Regions from separate parts of the Homo sapiens genome. Here all the other regions are linked to region 2. Evidence: fine-mapped QTL for protein levels in blood plasma. A gene starts in region 2. Each other region holds a variant in brackets. All regions are shown on one strand. Distances are from middle to middle.

The links. PIP is the posterior inclusion probability: the model's chance that the variant is causal. The UK Biobank Pharma Proteomics Project read protein levels with antibody pairs (Olink). The fine-mapping took linkage between variants from a reference panel, not from the people measured, so its PIPs are less certain.
Region 1: its variant is fine-mapped to the plasma level of the CA4 protein (UK Biobank, PIP above 0.99).
Region 3: its variant is fine-mapped to the plasma level of the CA4 protein (UK Biobank, PIP above 0.99).
Region 4: its variant is fine-mapped to the plasma level of the CA4 protein (UK Biobank, PIP above 0.99).

Annotation. Positions count from the first base shown.
Region 1 is chr17:60,167,076-60,175,180 of GRCh38, reverse strand. It overlaps a transcript of CA4 not described here and the pseudogene FAM106DP. Among named protein-coding and RNA genes, the nearest start is that of CA4, 21 kb to the right of the region's middle. The variant T/A (reference allele first, on the strand shown) is at 5,027.
Region 2 is chr17:60,145,944-60,154,048 of GRCh38, reverse strand. It overlaps CA4 (carbonic anhydrase 4), which reads right to left and starts at 4,076. Exons shown (of 8, transcript NM_000717.5): 1 at 3,957-4,076. The coding sequence starts at 4,014.
Region 3 is chr17:60,224,965-60,233,069 of GRCh38, reverse strand. It overlaps USP32 (ubiquitin specific peptidase 32), which reads left to right. Exons shown (of 34, transcript NM_032582.4): 13 at 6,839-7,031. It also overlaps SCARNA20. Among named protein-coding and RNA genes, the nearest start is that of CA4, 79 kb to the right of the region's middle. The variant C/T (reference allele first, on the strand shown) is at 3,955.
Region 4 is chr17:60,242,687-60,250,791 of GRCh38, reverse strand. All of the region lies in intron 11 of USP32 (ubiquitin specific peptidase 32), which reads left to right. It also overlaps the pseudogene RPL32P32. Among named protein-coding and RNA genes, the nearest start is that of CA4, 97 kb to the right of the region's middle. The variant A/C (reference allele first, on the strand shown) is at 3,105.

The sequences.
Region 1 (8,105 bases), 21 kb before region 2:
TGTGGTGGCCCATGCCTGTAGTCATCCCAGCTACTCGGGAGGCTGAGGTGGGAGGATCGCTCGAACCCAGAAGGTTGAGGTTGCCTTGATTGTGCCACTGCATTCCAGCCTGGGTGACAGTGAGACCTTGTCTCAAAAAGCCTCGGAAGGACTGGCCTAGGGAGATGGGCAAGCATTTTGTTTCTAGTTTCTGAATGGCCCTATGCGTTGAGAGAGGTCTTCGGCCTCCCAGCCTCCCTGGCTGAAGGTGGTGAGTCTGCATGGAGTCTCTCCACCACTTGGTGGCATTGCTCACAGTGACTTCTTACTTCTAAACACCATTGAATTGGAGCAAGTAGATGATTTGCCACATTTTTCCCAGCTAGTTTGGAGGCTGAGTACAGAATTTTACTGGGACACACCAGAATGTGTAAGTTGGGGAGTGGCGATCCCAGTTTCTCTTGATAATGTACCAACGGCTTCCTTAGTATTGAAATCACAAAGACAGAAATGCACACACCTCTATGATCAGAGATCCATACAGGAGAGAGCAACAAAAAGAGGCCTTTTAAGTTTGCCAGACTTCCTGACCAGTGGGAAGCAAGAGAGTAGATAAGTGTGCAGCAGTCACAAACCCAGGCCTATAAGAACCTGGTTGGGAATAGAATGTAAGAGAATGGGGAGCGATGGGGACTCTAGTGTGTTCTAGGCACATGCCCATCTAAAGGCTCCATGTGACTGTTGTCCTGCAGGAATGTGGGCCCCAGTGTTCACCAAACCTTTTGTTTTGTTTTGTTTTTCCCATGAAGAGAAGCCAGAAACCCAGATATTAATACAAAGTATCCAGTTTAGAAGTGTTGGTAAATTTTTTTAACTTTGAACATTGTGCTGCCCAAAGAAGGTATCTGCAAGCCAGGTACAAACCAGCAGTTCATGCCCTCTGGTGAGCAGAAAGGTCATAGACTTTGAGCCCATTATGTCGGAGGTCACATTCTAGTTCTGCTGTTGCAACAGCTGTAAACGAAAGTTTTCAGATTTCTAACGCCCAGTGAAAATACCACTTCATTTCCAAAGGTTATTAAAAGGAATAGATCATGTATGTAAGTAGGCACAGAGCTTGCCACCTATTAGGTACTCAAAAGCATTCTTCCCTCACTTAAGGAAACAATACAGGCATAATATAACAATAATGTTATGTTCAAGTTCATTATCAGGAGGCATACACCCAAACAATAGGGGAGTGAGCACCTACCACGTACAGAGCTCTCTGCTAGTTTCTCTGGGGGCAACAGTTCCCAACCTGGCAATTCATCGGCATCATCGGAATCAGCCAGCAGCTTGTTGGATATGCTGAGTCCAGAGTCCTGCCCATATTACACCTAATGTTCTGTGCCTATTACACCCAGATTTATGAGATCCTCCTCTCCCATGCAGTCCAAGAATCTGCATTCTAATAAGTTCCTCAGAGGAAGCTCTTTCACAGCCAGTTTGCACTGGTCTGTGGGTTGGTCATTTATGGAAACCACTGCTCCAGGGAATGAATCATTATTTCCAGTCTCATTAGGGAAAGATGATATGCATATGCACACATGTAAGGAGTGACAGTAATTAGCCAAAAGCTCTGTAGACATAATTGCCTCTGATGAAGTGCTGACTGATGACATCAGACACTAGGCTATTGACAGTGTACCCCAGGGAAATGCAAAAGGGAAGCGAACTGCCTCATAAAGTGAGATTAGGATTACTGGGTCAGAAATGTGGAGAGGGTGATTCAGATGGACAAAGGAGCAGAGGCAGGATTCAAGTGATGCGTTTCAGAGGCAGTGCAGCCTGTTTGTGCTGAGTGGAAGGTGCATGAGGAACATAGTAGACTGTAACAGGAAGGCAGGAGCTGTGAAGGCCTTTGAAGGTCAGGCCAGTTGTAATAAAAGTATTTCACATTGTCAGGTATCTTGGGATAGTTGCCAAACATTTTTCTATGGTTTGTATAAATACATATCCATTTTATTTATGTATTTATTTATTTTAGTTTTTTTGTTTGTTTGTTTGTTTGTTTTTGAGACGGAGTTTCGCTCTTGTTGCCCAGGCTGGAGTGCAATGGAGCGATCCCAGCTCACTACAACCTCCGCCTCTCAGGTTCAAGCAATTCTCCTGCCTCAGCCTCCTGAGTAGCTGGGATTACAGGCATGAGCCACCACACCCAGCTAATTTTGTATTTTTAGTAGAGATGGGGTTTCTCCATGTTGGTCAGGCTCGTCTTGAACTCCCAGCCTCAGGTGATCCACCCACCTCGGCCTCCCAAAGTGCTGGGATTACAGGCGTGAGCCACTGTGCCCGGCCTATTTTAGTTTTTTTTTGAGACGGAGTTTCACTCTTGTCGCCCAGGCTGGAGTGAAGTGGCACTATCTCGGCTCACTGAAACCTCCACCTCCCGGATTCAAGTGATTCTCCTGCCTCAGCCTGCCAAGTAGTTGGGATTGCAGCCGCACGCCACCACACCTGGCTAATTTTTGTATTTTCAGTAGAGACGGGTTTTCACCATGTTGGCCAGGCTGGTCTCGAATTCCTGACCTCAGGTGATCCACCCGCCTCAGCCTCCCAAAGTGCTGGGAATACAGGTGTGAGCCACCACACGGCACATATGTATCTATTTTAGACCATTTTATTATAAACATAAGTTCTGTTTGCTGTAATTTCTCTCTTTTTCATATTCACAATCCACTTTGGCTGGAATTTCTCTTGATAACAAACTTTAGACCTTACCAACAAGCCCAAGAGGAACTCACAGATGGGTGCTAGGCTTGAAATGCCCCAAGAAGACTGAAGGAAGTGGAGGAGGAAGAAAAAAGGAGGCAGAAGGGGGAAAACCTAGAAGAGCTCTGGACAGGGAGGAGGCATGCCAGAGAGAGGAGCCCAGTCACAGCTGAGTGCAGCCCAGGAAGGAAAAATGTGCCTGGTTGGAGGAGTTGTCCAAGGACCTTGGGGATAAGGGGACGGGGCTTCTCTGCTGATCTGATGGTTTTTTCAGTACCACCCTTCAGTTATCTGTAGCAGGATCCTCTGCTGCTGATGGCCAAACCTCAGTGCCCACTGGGATTACAAACTGGGGAGGAAGAGGGGGACTTCCACATTAGGGATCAGCAGGGAGCCTCCAGAATGGAGTAGGAGATACCTACGGCCATCATCAGAGGCTGCCGCAGCCCCAGGTTCAGAGCAGTCATCTTAGCTGATGCCATGGAAAGCAGTAGACCAGAAGTCCAGTCCGCAGTGTTTGCTCAGCACTTGGCAGAATTGTATGACCTTGGGGGTCACTTGCCTTGTCCGCGCCTCGGTTCCCCCTGTGAATATTGAGCGAGTTGCATTAGGTCAGTTGTCTTCAGCTTTTATTTTGAAACAACATTGAGACCCGACCCTTTCTTCCAGCCATTCCAGCCACATTTACCTGAAGGACCCATAGCTAAAGCAGATGAGGTTGGAGTTACTCCGGTTGAAGTGACAGTGGGGGGTGTAGTGCTGCCTGGGCAACCGCTGTGGATTGGATGTCTGCTAAAGCACCTGTCACCTCTAAGCATTCAGAAAGCCAAGCACACAGTGCTCCAGTAGGGTCTGAGGAGCTCCCAGAGAATTGTCTCCAGCAAGAGGAGTTGACAGTGCTCCCAGGAGAACACTCTCATTTGGTCTGCTAGAAATCATGGCCACAGGGTGGGCCTTTTCAAAGGCCATTTTGCTACTCAGTATACTGGGTAGCCAGCTAGAGTGAAGAAGCCACAGGGAGTGCCCGGAGCAGTCAGCCTGCTGCCTGGCCTCTGTTCCCTGGACATCCATAGGGAGCAGCCCCAGGGCCTGTGGCCTTTCATTGTTGTGCCAGCTGGAGAAAGTTACTGCTGCCAATCCTTGTTTGCAGAGCTCTCTGCAGCACAGAGCTGCAAATAAACATCCTCTCACTTGGGGAGGGATGGGGGAAAGGAGAGGGCTAAATCATCCAAAACACGTTCATTGAGTATCTACCACTTAGCTTAAAGGATAGTCCTGAGCTTGGAACCAGAAGAAACGCTGGAGATGGGCTTAGACATTTACTGGACTTCTATCTGCCAAACCCCATGCTATGCATGTTTCACTCGTGATTCGTAAATGCTCACCACAGCTCTATGAGGGATGCATGATCACCCTTTTTTCTAGATCAGGAAGCTGAGGCTCAATCAGGTTAAGTCACTTGCCTGTGGTGTCACACAGATGGAACATTTCTGAGCAGGATTCAAACCCAGGTTCATCCAGCTGCTTCTTTACCACCCTACCTCCCCCTGAACTGGAGTCTGTGATCCACCACTTAGCAACTCCTGGCACAACGGTAGTCACCCTGAGCCTCAGTGGGCTCATCTTTGACAAGGGATCAGGGTACCATGACCATAGCTACCTGAGAGGCTTGTAATAAGCCCTGAATAAGAAAGTGAGTGTGGAACCCTTTACAACCAAGGACACTTGTGCAAATGCAGTGTGTTGTTACGTAAGGAGAGGAAGTGGGTGTCCCCAAAGCAGCTCCTCCTCCTCTTCCTGGAAGATGATGTAAATAAAGAGTCATGCAGGCCTCTTGATGGAGAGTGATGTCTTAGGTTTGTTCTATTCGCTTCTGATGGCCCAGGGACCTTAGCAGCTGGATAGAAAGAAGAATTGAGGGGGATTAGATGGGGAGATAGGACCAGGGAGAGAGAAAGGATTCTGGATTGAGTCAAGCAAAGACTGTAGTTCCAAACTGGACTTTGGAGTATCTGATAGTATCTTATCAGAGATTTAACATGGGTGTGATCATTTCAGAGGTGGGATGGGAAGGACAGGAGTCCAATATGCTATTGTTGTAAAGGCGGCCACCAGCCACAGCAGCCATGAGAATCTCGTGCTCCCCACTGGCCCCCTGCCAGACCGGGCTACCTGACTATGCTTCATCCACTGAGGACAATGCCTTCTCCCTTAAACTGGGGCCTTTTCCTTCCTGGCCTTTCCTGGGAAAGGAGAGAACAATTGAGTCTGATCATTTATCCTCAGCTGTTTA[T/A]GCCCCAGTAGCGTGGGCTTTAAACCAAATACCACATGTCCATCTGGACACCATGGCAGGCTCATCACGTGGCCGACACACTCCCTAGCTGCCTGCCCCGCTCCTGCATTCATTCAACCCTGACTCTGCAGCGTTCCAGAGCAGCCCATTGTTTTTTCCCCTGGGATTAAGAGCCCAACTCTGGTTTTCTCATCTCTCCTCTGGATGGTAGTGGAAATGTTAGGCCTCAATCCAAAACTGATATGTATTCAGAAAAAAAGAAAGAGAAAGAGAAACCAGTCAGGCCTAATTTGAACTGGGGAAATAGCCAGTGTAAATTTGGAGGAAAATTCAAACTCCATAGCTGACTTGAAAATTGTCAGCATTGGCCGGGGGCAGTGGCTCACGCCTGTAATCCCAGCACTGTGGGAGGCTGAGGCAGGTGGATCACGAGGTCAGGAGATTGAGACCATCCTGGCTAACATGGTGAAACCCCATCTCTACTAAAAATACAAAAAAATCAGCTGAGCATGGTGGCGCATGCCCGTAGTCCCAGATACTTGGGAGGCTGAGGCAGGAGAATTACTTGAACCCAGGAGGCAGAGGTTGCAGTGAGCCGAGATTGAGCCACTGCACTCCAGCCTGGTGACAGAGCAAGACTCCATCTTAAAAAAAATAAAAAAGTCAGCCTCCAGGGCCTGTACCCACCCAGATGGTACCCCCTTGGGAGGGGGCAGCATCAGCACCATGCCTGCAGAGGCTTAGGTGTAATTGTGTTTACGTTGATAGTTTATGCCTGTCTGGAGCATAGGCCAGCTCCGGCCCCACTCCCTGAAGCATCACCAAATTCCAAGCAGTAGTATCTCCATGAATCTGCGAATCTGCTGTTGCTGCTGCTGCTGCTGCTGCTGCTTTTTTTTTTTTTGAGACAGAGGGAGTCTCTCTCTGTTGCCCAGGCTGGAGTGCAGTGGCATGATCTCAACTCACTGCAACCTCCGCCTCCCAGGCTCAAGAGATTCTCCTGCCTCAGCCTCCCAAGTAGCTGGAATTACAGGCATGCACCACCATGCCCGGCTAATTTTTATATTTTTAGTAGAGATGGGGTTTCACCATGTTGGCCAGGCTGGCCCCAAACTCCTGACTTCAGGTGATCTGCCCACCTTGGCCTCCCAAACTGCTGGGATTACAGGCGCGAGTCACCGTGCCTGGTTGTGAATCTGCTTCCACACTGGCTGTGTTTTCCTGGTTATAGCAGCCTCAGGCTCAGTGAAAGGTCACTCGCTGTAATGACTCAGGTTTCATTGGTTCTCCTTTATCCCCCTGCAAAGACCCACTCTCCCTCAAAGTACTGATGGCAGCCTCCAGAGGGTATCTCAAGTGTGCTCTTCAACTAGTCCTTTCAGCTGCCACGTGGTGTCCTCTGAGAGGGACCACCCGATCTTCTGGGCACCCCTCACCCAACGTGACCACTGCCTCTAGGCATTGCCTCCCAGGCAGGACACCAGGGGCCAGAGTTGCTCACTGCTCCCTTCACACTCCACGAAGGCTTTCCCAAAGCAGAGCTGTTCGTATTTCCACAAAATCACCTTCCCCACCTCCCCACCGAAAAAAAAAAAAGAAATCACCCTTCCCCACCCCCTCCCAAAAAAATCACCCTTCCCCACCTGCCCCCCCAAAAAAAGAAATCACCCTTCCCCACCTGCCCCCCCAAAAAAAGAAATCACCCTTCCCCACCTGCCCCCCACAAAAAAAGAAATCACCCTTCCCCACCTGCCCCCCCCAAAAAAAGAAATCACCCTTCCCCACCTGCCCCCCCCAAAAAAAGAAATCACCCTTCTTCACCTCCCCCCCAAAAAATAAAAAGAAATCACCCTTCCCCACTTCCTCCCACCAAAAAAAGAAATCACCCTTCCCCACCTCCTCCTCCCCCCCGAAAAAAAGAAATCACCCTTCCCCACGCCCCCCCAAAAAATAAAAAGAAATTACCCTTCCCTTTTCCACATGCGGCTTCCATTCTCCTTATGCCCCTGGTGTGAGTCCCAGAGGCTGAGTGGTTGCCACACTGAACTCAGAGTCCCTCCTCCCCTACATCTCTACATCTCTACATCTCTACATCTCTGAAGCTTCACTTGGACCCAGCTTGTCATACCCAACCCTATTCCCTTAAGAGAGGTGTCTCGCAGGAGGCCACTGAGGCAGTAGACCCAGGCAAGTCTGTCCTGTCATGTTGTAAGCAGCTCCTGATGTGGCTTGACCTCAGGGGCTAAACGAGGATACACAGCTTCATCTAGAGTAGAATGAACCCCGATTCAATAGCCTCATGGAGACTGGGGACAGACCAGGCAGCAGAATGGAGGTGCAAAGCCACCTAGGGCTCAAGGACTGGGAAGACACATGGAGCTAGGGAATAGCAGAATCTGAGAATCAAGCACCTTGTACACCCAGATCCCACATGTGGAAACCGCTGTTCAAGCTGTAATGATACCAGGTTGACTGTGTCAGCCCCTGAAGGAAAGCTGGCATAAATAGAGCCTGGAAAACCAGGCTTATCTTTGCCCAATGGGCAAGGTAAATATTTAGTCCCAGCCCTGGAATGGTGCCTGGTAGTTCCATTCTTTGCTATCATTTTTCCTTTTATTCACTCGTGCTGCAAACATTTGCCACCTGCCCTCCCTCTCTGTGGCCAGCCTTGGCCTGGGCACTTCGATGCTCTGATGACTAAGACGTGATTCCCCATTCTTTTCCTCAGGGACTCTTGCTGGGGGAGCAGACAAGGAGCAGAGATCAGGTCAGGCCTCACAGGCTGGGTCTTGGCTAGCACGTAGACTTCACAAGAGGAAGCAAGACTGCGGGGAGTGGTGGGGGAGAGCGCTCCAGGGCTAGGGTCAGCACACATCCCAGCGTCCTTGACTGGCCTGGCGATTTCTGCACCCATGCTTCCCTGTAAGCGTCCATGTAGAAACACAGAACAAGAAACACTTGGAGGCCAGCAGCACTCAGTATAAGGGAAGCAGCAAGGACTGCTGGGTTTGCAGATCTGGGTTCAATTCCCCATTTTGTCATTCATTCGCTGGCAAGGGACAAGTTCCTTTACCTCTCA
Region 2 (8,105 bases):
CTTCTTGTAGTCTAAGCCAGGGTAGAGTCCCCGGAGTGGGGACAGGATGGGGAAGGAGCCATGAGGGAGCATCCCCAGGAAAACTAACTGGCCACGAAGAGCTGCTTTGGGCTTTGGAGTTTCCCTGCCCTGATCACTGCCTCTCCTTCCCTGCTGGCATCGCCTTTTTCAGAGCTGCAGTGTCCTCCCCCTGATGGCCCATCCCCAGCCCCGGGCAGGGCTCTGCTGTCCCTGGGAGTTGCTGCACCTGAACCACCCCCATGTGGGTGGATTCTGCAGAGGGCAGTGGCCACTCGCCACCCCAGCAGTGGGGCAGAGCTCCGAAGCCTCCAGCTCCCGCTCTGCCTTTGCTCAGTCTCCACAGGGGAGTTATCTGACATTCTGAGTCCCATAATCTTCCTCTGACAGAAGGCATGTTACAGGAAAGGGGTCCCGATCCAGACCCCAAGAGAGGGTTCTTGGATCTTGCACAAGAGAGAATTCAGGTTGAGTCTGCAGTGCAAAGGAAAAGCACGTTTATTAAGAAAGTACAGTGGTGAAAGGACAGCTACTCCATAGACAGAGTAGGACATTCCCAAAAGTCAGAGAAGGAAGGAATGCATTCAATGCGTTGTATATATGGGGACATGTGCTCTGCTACAAGGGTTTGTGATAAAGGATTAATTTTCTTAATTACTACATTATCCAAGAATTGATATTATTATTATTATTGAGATAGAGTCTCGCTCTGTTGCCCAGGCTGGAGGGCAGTGGTGGGCTCTTGGCTCACTGCAACCTCCACTTCCCAGTTTCAAGCAATTCTCCTGCCTCAGCCTCCTGAGTAACTGGGATTACAGGCATGTACCACCATGCCCAGCTAATCTTTGTATTTTTAGTAGAGACAGGGTTTCACCATGTTGACCAGGCTGGTCTCGAACTCCTGACCTCAAATGATCCACCCGCCTCGGCCTCCCAAAGTGCTGGGATTACAGGTGTGAGCCACCGTGCCCAGCCAACATTATTATTTTTAAAGCAAAATTAGGAATGCCTTTGCTCTCCAGATATCGGAGTATCTGGACCTTCCCAAGTCTGGGTCTGTGTAGTAAATATTATTAATTTGTTCCCTTAACTGCAAACATCTAGAGGCTAGAAATGCCTGACTTTCTGATAATGCAGCCCAGCAAATCTCGGCCTCATTTTCCTAGCTCTCACCCAAAATGGAGTCACTCTGGTTCAAACGCCTCTGACAGGTGCAGCCACCAAATTCCCAGTGCTGGTGACTAAGGAGATAATAAATCAGAGGGCATTTGCACCATGACAGTTCCTTGCCATAATCATCCCATGTCCCCACCCGCAGAGGTCTTGAAGGAGGAAGGGGTTTTGAAGATTGGGCTGGCCTCTTCTCTGACTGGAGGGCCCGGGGGCAGCCATTCCAGGAGAAGCCTCCCTTCAGCCAGCATCCCCAAGAGCCAGCTGCAAAGGGTGGAGCCCCCTGTAACTCGCCTCACAGCCTCCCTGGGGCCCATCTGGTCCAGGCTTAGCTTTTCTTAGGAATTTGGTCTTCCCTGGCTCTGGCCGCAGCTCCTAGGTTTGTAGTGGTGACCTGTGATCCACTGTCTTAATCATGGAGACTTTTGACCTGCTTGGCTGAACGCACTTGTAACTACCTTCTTCAGGAAGCAGCAGCCAGGAAAACATAATGGTGGTGAGGTCAAGGCCAGGGGTCAGGTCCATGTCGGTGGATGAGGGTGGGGTGCTGGTGGCAGGAGCACCCACCACTCAGGTTCCTGTCTTCGTTGAATGAGAGGGCCACCCTTGCAGGTAAGTACCAGCCCACTGACTCAGGCCACTCCCAAGAGGGCTTGGGAAGGAGAGGGGCTACCTACCCAGAGGTCTCGGTGTCCAGCGCCACATCCTACCTAGTCCATCCACCCTGACCAGAGGTTAGAGACCGAAAGTCAGTCGCCTGTCACCCAGCTACTGCCCCCCACACTGACTGACCTGCCACCCCTCCCCCTTATTTCAAGATGGCTGAAGAAGCCTCTCTAATGGACCTTGCTCACCCCACCTCCCCCTCTGAGGGACAGGGGATAATCCTGAAAAACAGCTCAGCACAACCCAAGTGTTTCCTGGGCAAAGTCTCAGTCGCTCCCGGCCAGGGGTCTGGGGCTCTGAAGGGGACCAAATATCCTCACCCGGCCTCTTGTCTCAATGGACAGAGATGCTCTGGGGGTCGCCATATGCAACCTGGTCCCTTCTCAGCTTGAGTCCTCCATAAGATGAATGGAAGGCAGGTCCCAGTCAGAAAGCCTTGGCACTAAAGGGGATAGCAGCTTGTGTGAGGGGTGAGCTGAGACACATTCCTGACACTGGCCCCAGGCTTGGGGGAGAGCCCCATAAACTTGGTATATGACACACCAGCCACGTGCCACACAGGCACCGCACTAATCACTTAAACCCATTATCTTATTCAAACGCTTAAAACCCCTGAAGTCAGAATGACAACACCTGTTTTGCAAATGGGACAGGAAGTGACTTACCCAAGACCACACAGCTACAAAGCACCAGAACTGCAAAGCATTTCTCTTTCTACTTTCTAGCTGCTTAGTAGGTTTCCAATGTCCAACCCTACAAATAAAAGTTTCCACATTCTGCTTTTTCTCTTTCTTCTCCCAGGGGCCCGGTGGAGAGGCTGCAAGGTGCCCCTCGACCCTCTAAGACAGCTCAGCCAGTCCCTGCTGCAAAGGGCACACGCTGGCTCCTCTCTGTGCAGAGGACACCTTCACCCCTCACTCCGCCGCTTTGAGGATGGAGCACCTAACTTGGGAGAGGAGGTTTCAGCCTGCGTGGACCCCAAGAACCATCCGAGGGGTGGTTGGGCTGAGAACTGGCAGAGGGGGTCTTCCGGTGATGGGGTCTGGGGTTGCAAAGAAGGTGCCTCCAGGATCGGATCCCTGTGCCCAGCCGCTTGAAGCGCCTTTAGCTTCTTATCAAATATTAACATGCCTTTCCTGCCACCTCCCACCTAGAGGAATAATTAAGAGCTCGGCTTCACCATTAATCTTTAAACGAAAATCACCCTGTCCGGAAAGACCGGCTCCGCAGAGGCCTTGGGGCTCCGGGTCCCCCACCCCCCGCCCCCGCCAGGCTCCCAATTCAGCGCTGGAGGTTAGGGAGGCCAGGGGAGCTTGCGACCCTCAGGGGCAAGGAACCCGTGTGGGAAGCGCGGCTTCCAGGACCCTGCCAGACCGCCCTTGCTCTGGCCGCGGGGCAGTCACCCAGCGCTGAGTCCCAGCGGGACGGACGGAAACCCACGGGCAGACGGAGGAGGCTGGGTGAGAAAAGAAGGCGTGCGTTGAGGCGGGTCCGAGAAGCATCCTTTTTTTTTTTTTTTTTTTTTTTTTTTTTTTTTTTTAAACGGAGCACCAGGCTGGAGTGCAGTGGCGTGATCTCACTGCAACCTCCACCTCCTGGGTTCAAGCGATTCTCGGGCCTCAGCCTCCCGAGTAGCTGGGATTACAGGCGTGTGCCACCACGTCCGGCTAATGTTTGTATTTTTGGTAGAGATGGGATTTCACCATGTTGGCCATGCTGGTCTCGAACTCCTGGGCTCAGGTGATCCACCCGCCTCTGCCTCCCAACGTGCTGGCATTTCAGGCTGGAGCACCCGCGCCCGGCCTGAGACGCATCCTTATCAGGGACTCCCAACTCGTCTCGCCGGGCCACGCGCACACACCCTCACCGCGCACACCCGTGCACACGCTCCCCCAGCCGGTGCTGACACGCGTGTGCACACACAAGCTCGCGCGCTGCCCAGTCCTCCCGCACCCTCGCGGCCCCCGGCGCACACGCAACCCGGGACCCCAGCGCCACCGACGCTCACCGGTCGCCCGCGGGGGGATCCTCTGCAGGGGCGGGAGCTGGGGGCACGGAGGGGACCGCCGAGGGGCACCTGGGGCCGGAGCCCGGGAGCTCACCTGCACTGGCCGATGGCCGCGCCGCGGAGAGGGCCAGGAGCGCCAGCAGCATCCGCATCTTGCGGGACAGCAAAGAGTCCTCTGAGCCGGGGGTCGCGCACCGAGGAGGCCGCCGCGGGTGCAGCGATCCTGCCGGCCTGGGTTTTATAGCGGAGCCGCGACGGGAGGGAGCCCCGACAGCTGGACGCGGGAGGCGGCTCCTCCCCCTGGCGGGGCCTGCCCTCCCCTCTCCACCTTCCCCTGTCCCTCATCTGAAATCCTCCGCTCTCCCCGGTCCCCCGCCCTGCCTGGCCACCTCTTGCCCTGTGCGCAAGGCCCCCTCACCCACTCCGCGTCCTCTCCACTCAGCAGCGGCGCCCTGCCCCTCCCCCATCCTACTCCTGGTCCCTGGTTTGGGAACAGGGACACGACACCACAAAGTGCTTGACCCACACAAAGATGAGTGCCCCATGATGACTTTGATCATTCTGGCGCCACCCCTGCGCAGTGGTCTTGAATGGGACCTTGGAATGGCCTTGGGGTGGGGGTGGGGGTGGGGGTGGAGATGGCCTCGAAGAGATGAGAGGCTGAGGGGCGTGTGATGCCGTTTGTTGAATCAGTGGCCGCAGAAAGGCTCTCCTATCTCTCTTTGGCAGTGGCCATTGATTCTCTGGGTCTCATCTCTTCTATTTCCTCCCAGGCTGCTCCAAACTTAATTTCTAAGCAGACCAAAGACCTTTCTTCGAATACAGAGCAAAGCTGTCCCTAAACTACTGCCCTTGCTGGTGTTTATGTGATGACCAGGGAGGGTTGATGGGGCAGAATTAAGAAATGGATTGTAAGAGGATTCGGTGAGGGAGAAGCTGATGGGGTCAAAGGGGAGGAGCTAGGTTCTTTGAGCCCCCCAGGTGGAGAGATGAGATGGGAAGAGAAGAGACTGGGGTCTGAATGGACCCCTGGTTCTCCCATCTGGCAAGACCTCCAGAGGAGTCCAGGGGAAGTTCCCTTAAGGGCGGCTCCAACATTTGGGGAAATGGGGTCCCCCCCATGCCCCCAAGCTGCCTCTTGTCTCCTCTCTTAGCTGTGCCCTCCTGCTACTGCAGGTCCTCTGTGTCCCACATGGGGTGGGGGCTTCTGTGGGAGTTTGGGAAGCTCAGGCTGGGGTGCGGGAGAGGGACGGGGAACCAGGCAGTGGACCTGGACCTCCTCCATCAATCCATCAACAGGAAGCCCCCTTTTTCTGGTTTAGCCACTCCCCATCCGCTGCCAACCTCTCAGTCCCTACCGACCTTCGAACCTGGGCTAGGGACTTCTGAAGGGGGATTGCCTCCCCCAGAAGGATTCAGGCAAAGATGCTTCCTCCTTGCTTAGGGTTGAGGCTGACTCCCCGCTCCTGGCCCAGGATCACACAGCCTCACAGAGCAGCTTTGATCCTACAGAGAGGCAGGAGGGAGGTGAGGGGGTGTCCATGCCAGGCTTAGGGCTCTATTGTCAACACCACTGTATAATGTAATCACCAGCCTGCGACCATGACAGCCACAGGAGGGATTCCACACCCAGAGCCTATTCTGGGGAGTGCATTTGTGTTCACAGGGCTATAAAAATGTCCCTTTCAGGACTGAGGAAGCCTGTTCCTGGGAATAAAAACCACCCCCAGGGAGTCCCTGTGACCTCTGGCCAGCCCCCTGATGAGCAGGGGAGAGGCTTGGGAAACTTTGGTGGGGTTAAGGGACTGTTGATCAATGATCCACTTTAAAGTTCATTGCATTCAGGCCCCCCAGGAGAGAGGGGGGCCCTGGGTGCATTTTGGGACCATAAAGATGGGTGAGGAGAACGAGTCCCTGGTAGGGCATCCCCTCTGAGGAATGCGGGAGGGGTAAAGCTATACACTCTCTTATGGGTGCATCTTAATTATGGGCACCACAGAGCCTGCACATTGGCGATGGGGTGGTGGACTGGTTCCTGCTCCATCTGCCATCTCTAACTTCAAGGTTACACAGGGTGAGTGGCCCTCTCTTCCTGTTCCTGGTCTTAACATTCTCAGCCTTATCTCCAGCCCTGACCCCAGTCCTGGCCTGCCATAAACCAGTCACCTGTCACTATTTAGACTACCTGGGGCCCTGCTTACCTGTAGGGGACAAGGCCTGATTTAGGGTCGTTAGAGCTGGAATGAGTGCTGACATGTCCCAGCGACTTACAGGGCCCATAAAGCTGCCAGCCCAGGCCACCTGAGTGGGAGAGCCCAGCCCAGCAGCCCCAGCCTCCTTCCTCTTACTCTGCAGAGGCCCCCAGTGTTCTGAGTTCAAGTCTTTGCTCTTCTTCTGACTCACGGATGACCTTGGGCAACTTTCCTGCACCCGGCTGATTGCAACTTCCTCATCTATAAACTGGAGATGGTAATCCCTGCCCGGCTGACCTCCACCAATAAACAGTTATTTGGAGTCTGCTGTGAACCAGGGCCTGCCCAGCCCAGACTCTCACAACCGGCCTCTCAGTGCCTGGGTGTAGCCACTGGCCCATGGCGGATGCAAAGATTAATCACACTCTTGTCCTCTGGGGATGTTTGCACGCATGGCCCTGTCAGGAACAGAAGGGAGGCCATGGGAAAGCTAAGGGGCTTTGAGACACATAACCCTGGAGTCACTTCTGGCTCCATCCACTTGCTCTGTGATGGCAGCTGAGCCTCAGTTTTCCTCATCTATGAAATGGAAATCATCCCCCAATCTCTCTCAAAGATTGCCCTGAGGCCTCAGTGAGCTAAAGTCTGAGGAGGCTGGGCCCACGGCTTGGCACATTGGCACATGTGGCCATGACCTCTAAGCAGAGTCCCCTTAGCTGGATTAAATCTGACCCTAGGCAGGTGTGGAGGCAGCATTGGGTGGGATGGAACATTGAGTTAGCACTGGAGAGGGGCCCTGGCACATCCAGGCTCTTCCTGGGCTCCCAAGGGCAAGGAGGAGAGCCCTGACTGTAAACCTGGGAACATGAGGTTCAGATGCAGCTCCCGCTGGAACTGTGAGAGCCATGGAGTGGAGGCACAAAGGGAGCTGAGACCCTGCACCCCTGGGTTCACAGCTCAGGGGAAGGTCAAATACATTGCCCTAAACAGAAACCTATCATACCTTATGCTCAGCGTCGCAGGAGGGCAGAGAGAATATCAGGCAGAGGGTCAGAATAGGAGTAGGAGCCACACTGCCCGGGGTCTACATCCCAGACCCGACACTCAGCTTTCACCCCCGTCAGGCTCAGTGTCCTGATCAGGAAAATCACCAGCCTTCGACCATGATTTTAAAAAAAAACCAAAATAACAAAAAACACAGCAGAAATAAAAACAGCAGCTGCCGGGCACAGTGGCTCATGCCTGTAATCTCAACACTTTGGGAGGCCGAGGTGGGCAGATCACTTGAGGTCAGGAGTTCGAGACCAGCCTGGCCAAGATGGAGAAACCCCCGTCTCACTAAAAACACAAAAATTAGCCAGGTGTGGTGGCGGGTGCCTGTAATCCCAGCTACATGGGAAGTGGAGGCAGGAGAATCACTTGAACCCAGGAGGCAGAGGTTGTAGTGAGCTGAGATTGTGTCACTGCACTCCAGCCTGGGCAATAGAGCAAGACTCTATCTCAAAAAGAAAAAAAAAAAAAGAAAAAAAGAAAACCAGCAATACCTTCACAAGAGCGTGGTTAAAATTCCACAAGGTAATGCTGGGTGAAGGGCCTGTCTGGACACTTACTGAGTGCTCAGTAAACCTCAGCTGTAATTCTTAGTTGTTAAGGCCACAGTGGCCTTATGCCCAGAACAGCACAGGAGCCCAGAGGAGCAGCCCCTAACCCAGCCTGTAGGAAAGAGACTGGGGAAGCCTCCCTCAAGAGATCAGACCCGCACTGAGTCTTCAAAGAAAAGTAGACTTTAACTTAAAAAGGGAAGGGAGATGCAGGTGAAGGAAACAGAATGAGAAAAGGCATGGAGGTGAGGCTGGAGAGGGGTTTGGGACCAGACAGGGCTTGTCTGTTAGGATTGGAAGGTTGGACTGATCTTTCCTTTGGTGCGGGATAGATATCAAGATCTTAATTTTATAGACTGGGGAACATTCTCAGAGAGGGTCACTCGACCCCAGAAGCAGGTAGGGATCCTCTGTTACTTCTATGAGTTACAGAAGAGGAAGCTGCGGCTC
Region 3 (8,105 bases), 79 kb before region 2:
GACCTTGAATAAATTACTACTTCTTGCTCTACCTCAGTTTTCACATATGAACAATGAGATTAATAGTAATATCTATTTAAGTAGGGATGTGAGAATTAAATGAGTTAATACATGTGAAGCACTTAGCCCAGTGCCTGGCAGATAGAAACTCTATATAAGGTTAAAGGTAATAATGGTGGTAGTAGTAGCAGTAGTTATATGAGGATTTAAATTTCTTCTTTCATGCCAGGCATGGTGGCTCACGCCTATTATCCCAGCACTTTGGGATGCCAAAGCAGGCAGATCACTTGAGGCTGGGAGTTCAGCACCAACCTGCCCAACCTGGAGAAAACCCGTCTCTACTAAAAATACAAAAATTAGCCGGGTATGGTGGTGTATGCCTGTAATCCCAGCTACTCAGGAGGCTGAGACACAAGAATAGCTCGAACCTAGGAGGCAGAGGTTGTAGAGAGCCAAGATGATGCCACTGCACTCCAGCCTGGGCAACAGAATGAGACTGTATTTAAAAAAAAAAAAAAAAAAATCAAATTTCTCTTTCCAGTCCATGTGGCCACTTTGACAAACGCCTTGTTTAAAAAAAAAAAAAAAAAAAATTTGGGCCAGGTGCAATGGCTCACACCTGCAATCCCAGCTCTTTGGGAGGCTGAGGCAGGCAGATCACTTGAGACCAGGAGTTCCAGACCAGCCTGGCCAACATGGTGAAACCCCGACTCTACTAAAAATATAAAAATTAGCCTGGCGTGGTGGCGTGTGCCTGCAGTTCCAGCTACTTGGGAGGCTGAGGCAGGAGAATCGCTTAAACCCAAGAAGCAGAGGTTGCAGTGAGCCGAGATCATGCCACTGCACACCATCCTGGATGACAGAGTGAGACTCCATCTCAAAAAAAAAAAAAAAAAAAAAAGAAAAAGAAAATTAGTGTTGACATGTCAGATAATTTGATCTTAGAGCTTCATCTGCCTACCTAAGAGAGTACTTAGCTTTAATTTTTTCTCTTCATAAAATGACATATTTACTTACGAATATTACTAATTGTGAGGGTAGTATGTTTCAAATACTGGCAAGACTAAATGGAAAGATCAGAGACCAAGGGATCAGGAAAAATGAGCCATCCTTTCTTAGAAGTGGCTAACCCCAGATTTGCTGATTCACTGGAGCATGAATAATTTGATTGTGTCTCTGCTCATGGAATCTTACCAGTCTTTCCCCGCTTTAATGTGTCAAGCTTTATTCTTCTATGTGTAATCTCCTAAAAAAATGTAAATGGGGAAGAATGGTGAAATCTTTTCTATCATTATTACATTACATAATGTGTATCTTCCTTTTTGAGAACTATGAAGGAGCAGCTATTACTATTCACATGCAGATTTTCCTATTTAGTTATCACGTAACTTTAGAGCTAGAAGATACTTTAAATCACCTTTCGTGCCTCTCTCCCATGGGCTTTGGGGGGTCCCTGTTCTCCTTAGCCAAGGCTGGAGGCCAAGAGCAGCCCTCGAGGATCGTCGTCAGGACTGCCACGAGTGGGGCAGCCTTGTTTTCCTGCCTCAGACATGTGTAGTTGAGTGGGAAATAAAAGGAATGAAACACCTCTCTTCTCTGAATTTACAAATGAAGCCTCTGAGGTCCTTAGGTTTTATAATTGCCCAAAGCTGTATCAGACAATTATTTTATTACTTTATCTAGCACTCTAGAGCTCAGTGTCCTGAGTCCTGCCTTAGTACCTAATCTGTTGCTCCATGCTGCCCTCTATTTTTCCAAAGCTAGCATTTCAGTCACTAGTGAAATATGAAATTGACATAACTGTTAATTGATTCTTGTAACATACCTATGTACAGGGCATAAAAAGTAGTAGTATCATCAATAGAGAAAAAGGTGAATCTTGACCCATATTTTAGAACACATAAACTATTTATACAACTCACAGGGAATCCTAAAATCTCAAAATAAAATTCTCTTATATTAAAATAAGTACCTAGTCCTTTTGTGAATTGTTGACTCAGAAAATGAGGACATTTCTCTCTACAGGTGAAACTTTACCTATTTAGAAATCTATCTTCTGAAAACCAGGGTTCTAGGATAATTTTGAATAGTTCCAGACCCCTGAAGTCAATAAAAACAAAACATGATCCTTTGATGTTTTAGAAAAACAAAAATTTCCGCAAGCAGCCAGAAATGAACAGTCAAAAAAAGCTAGTGACTCTAAGATTCTGCAATATATAACTGTGATTGGTTTGTTCATCTTATAGAAGGAAAGTGGTAATAAGATTAATCGGATGAAAAGGTAGCTATTTCACTGAAAGCCAAGAAGGGTAGAAGGAACAAGAAAAATAAGCGTGTAGGAAGGGGAAGAAGGAACCTGAGTTGTGCTGACAGTTTCAGGCAGTGGAGAACAGTGAGAGCATCAGGTTCCTGTAATAGAAAAGAAAGCCGAAGACAATGAGAAGACAGACCAGTCTAGTTTGTTTGGAGCATTGGAAGAGAAGCAAAGAAAAGCCCATATTCTCCAAGTCTAAAGGTTATTACTCACTGTACCATGTTAAAAGCATGTGGTAGAACCGCAGTTGCTAGAGGCAAATGTTGCAATCTCTGAGAAGTTATTAGAATCATCCTGTTCACAAATTATTATAAAATTTAGCCTAGCAAATTTAATGCCTGGTAATATTTTTATTATCCTGTTTTCTTGCCAGTGATATATATAGATTTAACCTATGGACTGAGCTCTTCAGAATGAGAAGCATTATTACAGGAATGGTTTCATTTACATTTTCTTTAGAAACATAGGCACCATGTAAGACTTTCAAACATGTTAAAACATTTAAGATACAATTCCAAATATTACTCCTTGAAATTCTCTTACATGCCCATCTTAGAGGAAAACTTGAAGAAAATTGTTTGCTCAAATAGACCCAATCTTCCTCAAAATATATTACTACAAATTTTTTAGAAAGTAATTTGTGGTCGGGCGCAGTGACTCACGCCTGTAACCCCAGCACTTTGGGAGGCCAAGGCAGGTGGATCACCTGAGGTCAGGGGTTCAAGACCAGCCTGGCCAACGTGGCGAAACCCTGTCTCCACCAGAAATACAAAAATTAGCCAGGCGCAGTGGTGCGTGCCTGTAATCCCAGCTACTCCGGAGGCTGAGGCAGGAGAATTGCTTGAACCCAGGAGGCAGAGGTTGCAGTGACCCAACATTGCACCACTGCACTCCAGCCTGGGCAACAAAGCGAGACTCTGTCTCAAAAAAAGAAGGAAAAAAAAAGTAATTTGTAATGCATCAACTTTATATAAATGGAATATAGAAGTGAGTATAAATTTATAAACGGATTACCTTGCCAAAAATGTGATGGTTATTGAAACATCATTTAAGATCACTTATAGCAAAACTAAAGTGATTTTTCTGGAGGAAAACAAAGTGACTTGGAAGACTTTAATTTTTCTCAAAGGTGGCGCTGTTACTCTTTCAAAATGGTTTTGCTGTCTGTCTTGCTCCATCTTTATGGGCAGGAAGCAAATGACCTGAAAACTAAATAAATCTAAATCTTCTTCTAAAACACAAGTTCCAGAGCAGGTAGCAGATTTAATAACAAGTCAATTTCTAAGCTCTTAACATCTGGAGCACATTATAAAAACAAATGCATGAGACTATAATCCTCACTAGGGCAATAGTTATTAATTCTGGCTGCATATGTAGTGAGATCACATAGAGAACTTTAAAAATGAAAAAATGCCTTTGGCCGGGTGACTCATGCCTGTAATCCTAGTACTTTGGGAGGCCAAGGCAGGAGGATTGTTTGGATCCTCCAGGAGTTTGAGACCAGTCTGGGTAACATATTGAGACCCCATCTCTATGAAAACTTTAAAAATTAGTTGGGCATGGTGATGCATGCCTGTGGTCCTAGCTGAGGTGGAAGGATCACTTGAGCTCAGGAGTTCAAGGGTATAGTGAGCTATAGG[C/T]GACTGAGCAAGACCCTGTATTAAAAAAAGAGCCTTTGCTATACTCCAGACTAAAAAAATCAAAAAGCATAAGTGAAAAAAAAAAGTTGAATTGATTTAAATAATAAGGCATTTATGTTTATGGAAAATTTTCTTTTGAAACCTAATTTAACCAGGTGAGGTGGCTCACACCTGTAATCCCACCACTTTGGGTGACTGAGGCAGGAGGATTACCTGAGGCTAGAGTTTGAGACCAGCCTGGGCAATACAGTAAGACTCCATTTCTACCAAAAAAAAAAACAAAAACAAAAAAAACAAAGAGTCTCGCTCTGTTGCTCTGGCTGGAGTGCAGTGGCATGATCTCAACTCACTTCAACCTCCACCCCCTGGGTTGAGGCCATCCTCCCACCTCAGCCTCTCAAGTTACTGGGGACTAAAGGTGCACACCACCATGCCCCACTATTTTTTTTTAATATTTTTTTGTAAAGACGGGATCTATCCACGTTGCTCGGGCTGGTCTCCAACTCTCCTGAGCTCAAGTGATCCAGCCACCTTGGCTCCCAAAGTGCAGGGATTACAGACATGAGCCACCATCCCTGGCCAAAACTTGTTTTAATTAAAAAAAAAAAAAAAAAGAAAAAGAAAAAAGAAACCTAATTTAAATGTCATGTATTTTGTGTTGGTATGAATTCCATATTAGAAAAGCTGTGAGAAGCTTGATATTATCTTTAAGAAAATTAACACTTAGGACTAATTTATACTTCTTTTTTGACATAGATCATTTTGGTTCTACTGTCTTGTCTACAGGATTTTGGTTTCTAGGCCAGGCACAGTGGGTCACGCCTGTAATCCCAGCACACTGGGAGGCCAAGGCAGGTGGATCACTTGTGTTCAGGAGTTTGAGGCCAGCATGGTGAAACCCTGTCTCTATTAAAAATACATAAATTAGCTGTGTGTGGTGGCAGGTGCCTGTAGTTCCAGCTACTCAGGAGGCTGAGGCAGGAGAATCATTTGAAGCTAGAGGCGGAGGTTGCTGTGAGCCGAGACTGCACCACTGACCTCCAGCCTGGGCGACAGAGCTTGACTCTGTCTCAAAAAAAAAAAAAGAATTTTGACTACTTTGGTGAACCATCTAAATTTTAAAAATTGATGGTCCAAAATTCATATGTAATATAGATTCCTACTTCTTAATCATTTTTTTAAACTATGGTCACCATTTTTCTCATGTAATGCCATACAGTTAACTTACATAAATAATTATGCCATTTTTACTTAAAATTTAAAAAAATTTTTTGGCTACTAAAGTGAAGCAGTGGTAACAGACAAGGAACAAAGAAATTTATAACTGTTTGTGATTAATTAGTTATTTAATCATATTTTCAAAGGAAACTTTATATCACTACTTTAAGTAGAAAACTTATGTCCACTGGGCACAGTGGCTCACGCCTTTAATCCTAGCCCTTTGGGAGGCCCAGGCAGGAGTATTGCTTGAGGCCGGGAGTTCAAGACTGACCTAGCCAACATAGCGAGACCCTGTCTCAAAAAAAAAAAAAAGAAAAGAAAAACTGAATGGGCATGGTGGCTCACGCCTGTAATTCCAGCACTTTGGGAGGCCCAGGCGGGCAGATAACCTGAGGTCAGGAATTCAAGACCAGCCTGGCCAGTATGGTGAAACCCTATCTCTATGAAAACTACAAAAATTATCTGGGCTTGGTGGCATGCACCTGTAATTCCAGTTACTCGGGAGGCTGAGGCAGGAGAATCTCCTGAACCTGGGAGGTGGAGGTTGCAGTGACCCGAGATCACGCCACTGCACTCTAGCCTGGGTGACAGAGTAAGACTCCGTCTCAAAAAAAAAAAAAAAAGAAAAAAAGAAAAGAAAACTAGTGTCGCTTGCCAGAAATAGAAGGCAATAATATTATTAAATTCCAGCTAATAGTGTTGCCTTTTGAAGACTCTGCTATTTAGGATTGTTCTCTCTTTGTTAAAAAGAGAAATAGAGAAAATATGAAATGTTAGATTAGCATATTAGCACTATATAAACAATACAATGTTTGGTGAAAGAAAAAAATATGATTTTTTTTTTTTTTTTTTTTTTTGAGACAGAGTCTCACTCTGTTGCCTAGGCTGGAGTACAGTGGCGCAATCTCAGCTTACTGCAACCTCCCGGGTTCAAGTGATTCTCTTGCCTCAGCCTCCCGAGTAGCTGGGATTACAGGAGCCCTCCACCACCCCCAGCTAATTTTTGTATTTTTAGTAGAGATGGGATTTCACCATTTTGGCCTCCTGACCTCAAGTGATCCATCTGCCTCGGTCTCCCAAAGTGCTGGGATTAAAGGTGTGTTCAGTTATTGTAGAAGGTCACATAGGTATAAGTCATAGCATTGCCCTTCACTCTATGTACATACACCACTCATCTTTTACATATATACATATTTTTCAGTCATAAGAACTAAAACACAGTTATTGCTAAATGATGGAATCTGAGTACATGTGATATTTTCTTCATGTTTTCTATATTTTCTACATTGACCATGTAATCTTTAATAATAAAAAAATTATATACATTCATGTACTATGGGAAATAAGGAAGAAAAGAAAAAAATTTAAGCTTTATTTACTTTTAATGTTAAAAAAATGGCTGCCAACAGAATAGAGTGTAAATTACTTTATGTGGCACAAAATCCTTCACAGTCTGTTTTGTCTACCTTGCCAATTTTATCTATATACATACTTTTCCTCCTGAAAGAGATTAAAATATAGCTATGTATTAGAATGTTTTTAAATGTCTGTGGCCAACCACAGGAGACTTAAAAAAATAGATAATTGTGAGATTTGTTTCTGAAGACTACATAGTTGTCAGATTATAAACTTTGCTTCTTATTCTCTGATTTCCTGATTTTAGGATGCCAACCCTGTGGTAATTGAGCCATCATCTGTTTTGAATGGAGGAAAATACTCATTTGGAACTGCAGCCCATCCTATGGAGCAGGTCGAAGATAGAATTGGAAGCAGCCTCAGTTACGTGAATACTACAGAAGAGAAATTTTCAGACAACATTTCTACTGCATCTGAAGCCTCAGAAACTGCTGGCAGCGGTAAATATGACCTATTCCCCTGAGGTTTATTGGTTTATTCCCCCTGGATAGGTCTTTCTTTTCTTTTCTTTTTTTTTTTTTTTTTTGAGACTGAGTTTCACATTTTGCCCAGGCTGGAGCGCAGTGGCGCGATCTCTGCTCACTGCAACCTCCACCTTCTGGGTTCAAGCGATTGTCCTGCCTCAGCCTCCTGAGTAGCTGCGATTACAGGCACCCGCCACCACGCCTGGCTAATTTTTGTATTTTTTTAGTAGAGATGGGGTTTCACTATGTTGGCCAGGCTGGTCTTGAACTCCCAACCTCGTGATCTGCCTGCCTCGGCCTCCCAAAGTGCTGGGATTACAGGCGTGAGCCACCATGCCTGGCCTCCCCATGGATAGTTATTAAGGCAGTCTAATTTGACAGAGGCTGTAGTGAATATGGTAATAGGAGATCAGGCTTCCATTAACAGAAATAAGTTTTGAATGAAATGGTCAATTGTAAAATTCTTGAATATATTAGTATTTTTACAAAGAAAACCTCTTTTCCATATTATACTTCATTAAATCTCTCAATATGGAAATATTTTCACTATTTTCTTTTGAGACAGGATCTCGCTCTGTCACCCAGGCTGGAGTACAGTGGCATAATCACGGCTTACTGCAGCCTCTGCCTCCTGGCCCCAAGCAATTCTCCCACCTCAGCCTCCTAAGAAGCTGGGACTACAGGCACGCGCCACCATGCCCAGCCATTTTTTGTGTGTTTTTATTTTAGGGATAGGGTTTTGCCATGTTGCCCAGGCTGGTCTCAAACTCCCAGGCTCAAGCAGTCCTCTGGCCTCAGCCTCTCAAAGTGCTGGGATTACAGGCATGAGCCATCACATGCGGCTATTTTCACTATTTTCATCAATCAAGCCCCATCTTTCCCTATTGCTATTAAATTATTTAGTCAGTAAATTTAAATTTTCAAAGATAGTCATCTCCAGGACTCTCTCTAGCCATAAACATAATTAAATTAAATGCACCCCACATCAGATTCTATGTATATTTCAGGCCAAAATATGGAGATTATTTTGTTAAAATACTGAGAAAGAAT
Region 4 (8,105 bases), 97 kb before region 2:
TCTTTTGAGATGGGGTCTCACTGTATTGCCCAGGCTGGTCTTGAACTCTCCTGAGTTCAAGAGATCCTTCCACTTCAGCCTCTTGAGTAGGTGGGATTACAGGTGTACACCAATGTGCCCAACTTTCATGTAGTTTTTTAAATATTCATACTCAGAAGACTCAGTCTTGATATTCTTGAGTGTTTTCTTGATTGTCTCTAGTTTTTAGCTACTAAAAGATTTTAAAATATATTAACGTAGGATTTTAAAATAATTGACATGTAGAAACCAGATATTGTAAGGACATACATAAAGGCTTTTATGTGGCTATAGTGACTTTTTTTCTTAGAATATTACAATCTAATTTATTATAGTAATATATTCTGAGGTAAATATCACTTAGCATAGGTAGAAATAATGCTTTATAGCCTATATTTATATTTATTGGCTTATTTTACAACTACTCATAGCATCCCTATTTCAAAAAATAAGGTTGATATAATCTTATATTTTCATAGAAAGTTATTCTTTGTAAAATACATGTAGTTACATTATCTCATCTGGTCCTTAGAATAACTGCATGAAATTAGTGTCTCTCATTTTGTAAAAGTGGAAACCAAGATTTATAGAAGTTGAGGACCTGAAATTACATGGGACTGGCAGAATCAAGTTTAGGACCTCTTTCATTAAAAGTACCAATAATTTGCCTTTTGTATTTTGTATTTTTTAATAAGTCTAGATTTAAAATTGTTGGTTCCAAATGGGTTCATTTCATCTGTGGGTTTTTTTTAAAATTTGTTTATTCATTTTCAGTTTTATTTTATTTTGCCTCTACTATTACTTATAAAAATTCATTTGACTGTGATAATTTTTAAAGGATGATTCAGGTTGGTTCATATGCAATGAGGTGAAACAAATATTTGTCTCTAACTTACAGTCAGTACGTTGTTAAAAAAAAAAAGTATCGTGATTTCTGGAATGGCCGAGTGAAGATCTCAGCCAACCCTTTCCCCAAAAGCACTTAAAAAACTGAACAAAATTGTCAAACAACCATTTCAGGACTCTGGAAACTGACCAAATATATACAAGAAATTGAGAAGCATTTATTCAAGAACTACTAATCCTTGGTGAGAACAATGGAAGTGTGTGGTAATTTAACCAGGAGCAGCTTTCATTTCCTCCCATCCAGCAAGTCTGCATGGGCTGTCAGTCTGATTCATGATTTGAAGGAGAGCAGGAATAAATGCCTGTCCAAGGATAATAAAATAAATACATACCATCATGGTGGTAAACAGTGAGGGAAAACTGACATCACCAGCTTGGGGATAAAATACTGGTTAGGGGAAGCAGCAGACTAACAACAGACCAGTCAAATTTTTAACAGGGAACAGGATCACCATAGTGAGCCTTAGCAAGCTTTCTCATGTCCCCAGTGATCTGTAGACTGCTTGTACAAGGCTATACACAAACTCAGGAGAAACCAAAGTGGGCTTTAGCACTTTATTCTTCCCTAGTTGAAGGTGAAGCCTTGCATGTGCAGAAAGTAAAAGCCAGGGTAGGCTTGTAACCTGCCCAAACTTTAAATGCATTCCCCAAACCATGTACAGATCCATCAGGAAAAGGGTGTGAATGTTACTGGCTAAACACAACCAGTAAACTGCTGAGAGCACAACCTCTCAGCAGTCATTGGCTGACCAGTAAGTTAGGCTCACCCCAAGAAGGCCAAGCTTAAAAATAAAAACAGATAATAAAAAAGAAAACACGAAGAAACTGAGCAGCTTCACACTGCAAGATACTGTACCGGAAGATAAACTCTACAGAATTGTTCCAGGAAGTCGTAAAACAAAACAAAACACACAGGGGTTCAGAATCCAGAGTTGCTAATATAAAGTATCAAATGTGTTCAGTTTTCAACAAGAAAAAATTATGAGACATGGAATAAAACAGGAAAATGTGACCCATATACGAGGAAAAAACAAAGAATAGTAGAAACTGTCTCAGAGGTGGCAGCAGATGTTCTCCTTAGCACACAAAGACTTCAATACAACTATTGTAAATGTTTTCAAAGAGCTAAACGAAGCTGTATTTAAAGAATTAGAGGAATGTATGATCTCACTGACTTGTCCAAATAGAAAATAGCAATAAATAAATAAAAATTTAAAACAGAATCAAATAGAAATTCTAGCAGATTTGAGTTGACAGAGAAATATTCAGCAAAACAGAATATGGATCAATAGAGATTATTTCATCAGAAAGAGAGAAAGAAGACCAAATAAATGAACAGAGTTTCACAGAAGTTGGAACATGATCAAGTCTACCAAAATATGCATAATGAAAGTCTCAGAAGGAAAGAAAGAAGCAGAAAAAAGTTTGACAAGATAATGTCTGAAAGTTCTAAAATTTCTCGAAAATTATTAATCTTAGAAGCTTAATGAACTCCAACTAGGTTAAACACAGAAAGAATCACACCTAGACATATCATTGTCAAAGTGTTGAAAACTAAAGACAAAGGAAGAAGTTGAAAGCCACAAGAGCAGAAAGACTCATCATGTAGAAGGGAACCACAATGTGATAAACAGCTGACTTTTTGAAACAATAGAGCTCAGTGTGCAGTGATATGAGAAAGTGATATAAGGAAAAAACCAAAAAAGCAAAAACTGTCAATCCAGAATTCTTTATCTAGCAGAACTGTAATTCAGAAATAAAGGTGAATTACTACCTGACTTCAAAATACACTACAAAGCTATAGTAACCAAAACAGCATGGCACTGACATAAGAACAGACAAATAGACCAATGGAACAGAACAGAGAACCCAGAAATAAATCCAGGCCAGGCGTGGTGGCTCACGCCTGTAATCCTAGTGCTTTGGGAGGCTGAGGTAGGTGGATCATGACGTCAGGAGGTTGAGACCATACTGGCTAACGCGGTGAAACCCCGTCTCTACTAAAAATACAAAACAATTATCCAGGTGTGATAGCACATGCCTGTAGTCCCAGCTACTCAGGAGGCTGAGGCAGGAGAATCGCTTGAACTGGGGAGGTGGAGGTTGCAATGAGCCAAGATCACGCCACTGCACTCCAGCCTGGGCAACAGAATGAGACTCTGTCTCAAAAACAAACAAAC[A/C]AAAAAAAAACCAAAACAAACAAACAAGCAAAACCCCCCACATTTACAACCAACTCTTTTTTGACAAAGATGCCAAGAGCATACATTAGAGAAAGGACAATCTCTTCAATAAATGGTGCTGGAAAAATTGGATATCCACGTGCAGAAGAATGAAACCAGTTCCCAATTTCTTACCATACACTAAAATCAAATCAAAATGGATTAAAGAGGCTGGGCGAGGTGGCTCATGCCTGTAATCCCAGCACTTTGGGAGGCCGAGACGGCTGGATCACCTGAGGCCAGGAGTTCGAGACCAGCCTGACCAACATGGTGAAACCCTATCTCTACTCAAAGTACAAAAACTAGTTGGGTATGGTGGCAGGCGCCTGTAATCCCAGCTACTCAGGAGGCTGAGGTGGGAAAACTGCTTGAAACCGGGAGGTGGAGGTTGCAGTGAGCCGAGATTGCCCCACTGCACTCCAGCCTGGGCTACACAGGGAGACTCCGCCTCAAAAAAAAAAGAAAAGAAAATGGATTCAAAGACTTAAATCTAAGACCTAAACTACTAGACGAAATTGGGGAAATGCTGTAGGACATTTGTCTGAGTGGTATGACACTGTATAATACCTCAAAAGCACAGTCAGCCAAAGCAAAAATGGACAAACAGGATTTCATCAAGTTAAAAAGCTTTACAGCAAAGGAAACAGTCAACAGAGTGAAGAGACAACCAACAGAATAGGAGAAAATATTTGCAAACTATCCATTCATCAAGGTTTTAATAACCAGAATGTATAAAGGCCTCAACTCAATAACAAAAAACCAAATAACCCAATTTAAAAATGGGCAAGTGATCTGAATAGACATTGCTCAAAAAAAGACATACAAATGGCCAGCAGATATATGAAAAAATGCTCAACATCACTAATCATAATCGAAATATCAAAACCACAATGAAATATTATCTCCCAGTTAAAATGGCTATTATAAAAAAGACAAAGAATAACTGATTCTGATGAGGATGTGAAGAAAGGGAAGTGCTAGTACACTATTGATGGGAATGTAAATTAGTACAGTCAATATGGAAAACAGTATGGAGGTGCCCCAATAAACTAAAAATAGATCCACCATATTATCCAGCGATCCCACTGCTGGGTATATATTCAGAAGAAAGGAAATCAGTAAAGCAAAGAGCTATCTACACCCCTGTGTTTATTGCAGCACTACTTACAATAGCCAAGATACAGAATCAACTTAAGTGTCCATCAGTTGATGAATGGATAAAGAAAAAAAAAAAATATATATATATATACACACACACATACACAATAAAATGTTATTCAGCCATAAAATGAATGCAATCCTGTCATCTGCAGCAACATGGATAAAACCGGAGGTCATTACGTTAAGTGAGATAGGCCAAGCATAGAAAGACAAATATCACGTGTTCTCACTTTTAAGTGGGAGCTAAAAAAGTTGATCTCGTGGAATTAGAGAGTATTATGATGGTTATCAGAGGCTGGCAAGGGCAGGAGGGATAATATTGAAGAGAGGTTAGTTAATGACTGTAAAAATACAGTTGGATAGAATGAATGACTTCTAGTGTTTAATAGCACAGTAGGGTAACTATAGTTAAAAATAATTTATTGTATATTTCAAATTAGCTAGAAGATTCGGAATATTCCCAACCCAAAAAAATGATAAATATTTGAGGTGATGAATATCCTAATTACCATATTTGATCATTACGCATTGTATGCATATATCAGAATATCACATGTACCCCAAAAACATATACTATTATTATATATAATTTTTTAATAGAAATATTTTTAAAGCTTTTTAAAAAAAAACACATTAAAAAAAAAAGAAGGTGAACTAAAGACATTCCTATATGAACACTGAAAATTTGTTACCAGGAAATCTGTCTTTAAATACTGAAGGAAGTTCTTCAAGCTGAAAATAAGTGACACCAGACGGTTATTAACATCCACATGAACAAATAAAGAGGCTCTCTTCCTTGGCGCTGCCTACGGAGGTGGCAGCCATCTCCTACTTGGCATCATAGCTGCCCTCAGACCCCTTGTGAAGTCCAAGATCATCAAAAAGAGAACCAAGAATTTCATCCAGCACCAGTTACACTGATATGTCAAAACTAAGTGTAACTGACAGAAACCCAGAGGTATTGACAACAGAGTTTGTAGAAGGTTCAGCAACAAAAAACAAACCACATGCTGCCCAGTGGCTTCCAGAATTTCCTGGTCCGCAATGTCAAGGAGCTGGAAGTGCTGCTGACGTGCAACAAGTGTGCTGAGATTGCCCACAGTGTTTCCTCCAAGAACTGCAAAGACATTGTGGAAAGAGCAGCCCAGCTGGCCATCAGAGTCACCAATCCCAATGCCAGCCTGTGAAGAAAATGAATAGACAGCTCATATGCATGTTTTATGTTTAAATAAAACCATAAAAACTGCCAAAAAAAAAAATAAAGAGCACCAATAGTAGAAATTACATAGGTAATAATAAAAGACAGTATAAATATACCATTCTGTTTATTTTATTTTTTACTGGTTTAAAAGACATTTTTACATGACAATAATTATAAAACCATGTTGTTCCCATTACATATAACGATCTTATATGAGTGACAACAATAGCACAAAGGTGAGAGTAGAAGGGGAGCTATATTTGAGCAAAGTTTCTATGTTTTAGTTTCTACACTTTTTTAGTTTCTATACTTTACTGGAATAAATTAGTATCAATCAAACATAGTAGACTATGTTGGCTGGGTGCCATGGCTCACGCCTGTAATCCCAGCTCTTTGGGAGGCCAAGGCAGGCGGATCTCTTGAAGCCAGGAGTTCGATACCAGCCTGGCCAACATGGCAAAACCTCGTCTCTACTCAAAGTACAAAAATTAGCCTGGCGTGGTGGTGCGTGCCTGTAACCCTATCTATTCATGAGGCTGAGGTGGGAGAATCACTTGAACCCAGGAGGCAGAGGTTGCAGTAAGCTGAGATGGAACGCCTGCTCTCCAGCCTGGGCGACAGAGCAAGATGACATCTCAAAAACATAAAGTAAAATAAACAATAAAGTAGACTATGTTAAGATCCATATTGTAAACCCTACAACAATCTCTAAGAAAATGATCCCCCAAAATAGTTTTATTTAAAAAGGCATTAAAATGTTACCTATTTAAATTCCTAGAAAATACCTATTTACCACAAAAGAAAGAACTAGAGGAATAGAGGAACAAATAGACTTGATACATAGAAAACAAAAAACTAAATAGCAGACATAAATCCACATCTGTTTTTACCTTAAATATAAACAGATTGAACAGATAATCAAAAGCCAAAGATTTAGACTGACTTGTTTTTTGAAAAATCTAGCTACTTGGCTGGGCACGGTGGCTCATGCCTGTAATCCTAGCACTTTGGGAGGCCGAGGTGGGTGGATTGCAAGGTGAGGAGATTGAGACCATCCTGGTTAACACGGTCTCTACTAAAAAAATTAGCTGGGCGTGGTGGTGGGCGCCTATAGTCCCAGCTACTCGGGAGGCTGAGACAGGAGAATGGCGTGAACCCGGGAGGCGGGGCTTGCAGTGAGCCGAGATCGCGTCACTGCACTTCAGCCTGGGTGACAGAGCTAGACTCCATCTCAAAAAAAAAAAAAAAAAAAAAAAACACAATCCAGCTACTTGAGATTCAAAGGCACAAATAGGTTGAAAGTAAAAGAATAAAAGATAAAACCATACAAATATAGCCATACGTGAACTAAAATCACTTTACTGTTAAGAAAAGAAAATGGCTTTTAGGTTACAAAAGTCAAGTTACTGGAGCCAGAGAGACATTTTATTATGATAAATGATGATATATGCACCCACCAACAGAACCCTTCAGCCAACAGCAACAGAATACATATTCAAATGTAGACAGAGTATTGTTCTAGGATAGACCATATACTAGGCCAGCAGTTAGTCAGCAGACTATGGCATATTGACCAACTTTGTCCCACTGCCTGATTCTGTACAATCTGCAAGCTAAAAATGTTTTTACCGTTTTAAGTGGCTTAGAAAAAACCAAAAGGGGATAAATATTTTGTGACACCTTACAATTATATAAAATTCACATTTCAGTGTACATAAATAACATTTTACTAGAGCACAGTCATGCTCATTCACAACTTTGGGGAAGGGAAATTCCTCACTCTAAAAAATATCTTGAAAAACATACAGCTGAGATCATACTTAATGGTAGAACACTGAAGGCTTTTCCCATAAGATCAGGAAAGGATACTTGCTTTTGCCGCACTTATCAACATTGTATTAGAGCTTCAAGCTAGTTAAATTAGGCAAGAAAAGGAAATAAAAGGCATCAAGATTGTAAAGAAAAATAAAACTGTCTGTAATTGCAGATAACATGATCCTATGTGTAGAAAACCCTGAAGAATTCACAGAAAAACTGTTAGAATTAATAAAATGAGTTCAGCAACATGACAGGATACAAGATCAATGATTAAGCAATCAATTGAATTGTCATGTACTAGATAGAATAATTTGAAAGTACAATTAAAAAGAAGACAACAATTCCATTCACTATATTGTCAAAAGAAATCAAACCCTTGGAAACAAATTCAACAAAAGAAGTGCAAGACTTGTGCACTGAAAGATACAAAGCATTGCTGACAGAAATTTAAGAAAATGTACGTAAATGGATTTGAAAACTTATTGTTGTCAATATGGCAATTTTCTCAAATTGTTCTATAGATTCAAAACACACCTAATCAAATCCCAGCTTTTTTCTATAAATTGACAAGCTATTCCTAAATTGTATAGGGAAATGCAGAGAACTCAGACTAGCCTAAACAACTTCAAAAAAATGACAAAAAACAGAAGACTTAGACTTCCTGATTTCACAATTTACCTAAGGATACATTAATCAAGTACTGGAATAAGGAGAATCATAGAGATCAGTAAAATGGAATTGATATTTTAAAAGGAAACCCTTGGCCAGGCGTGGTGGCTCAT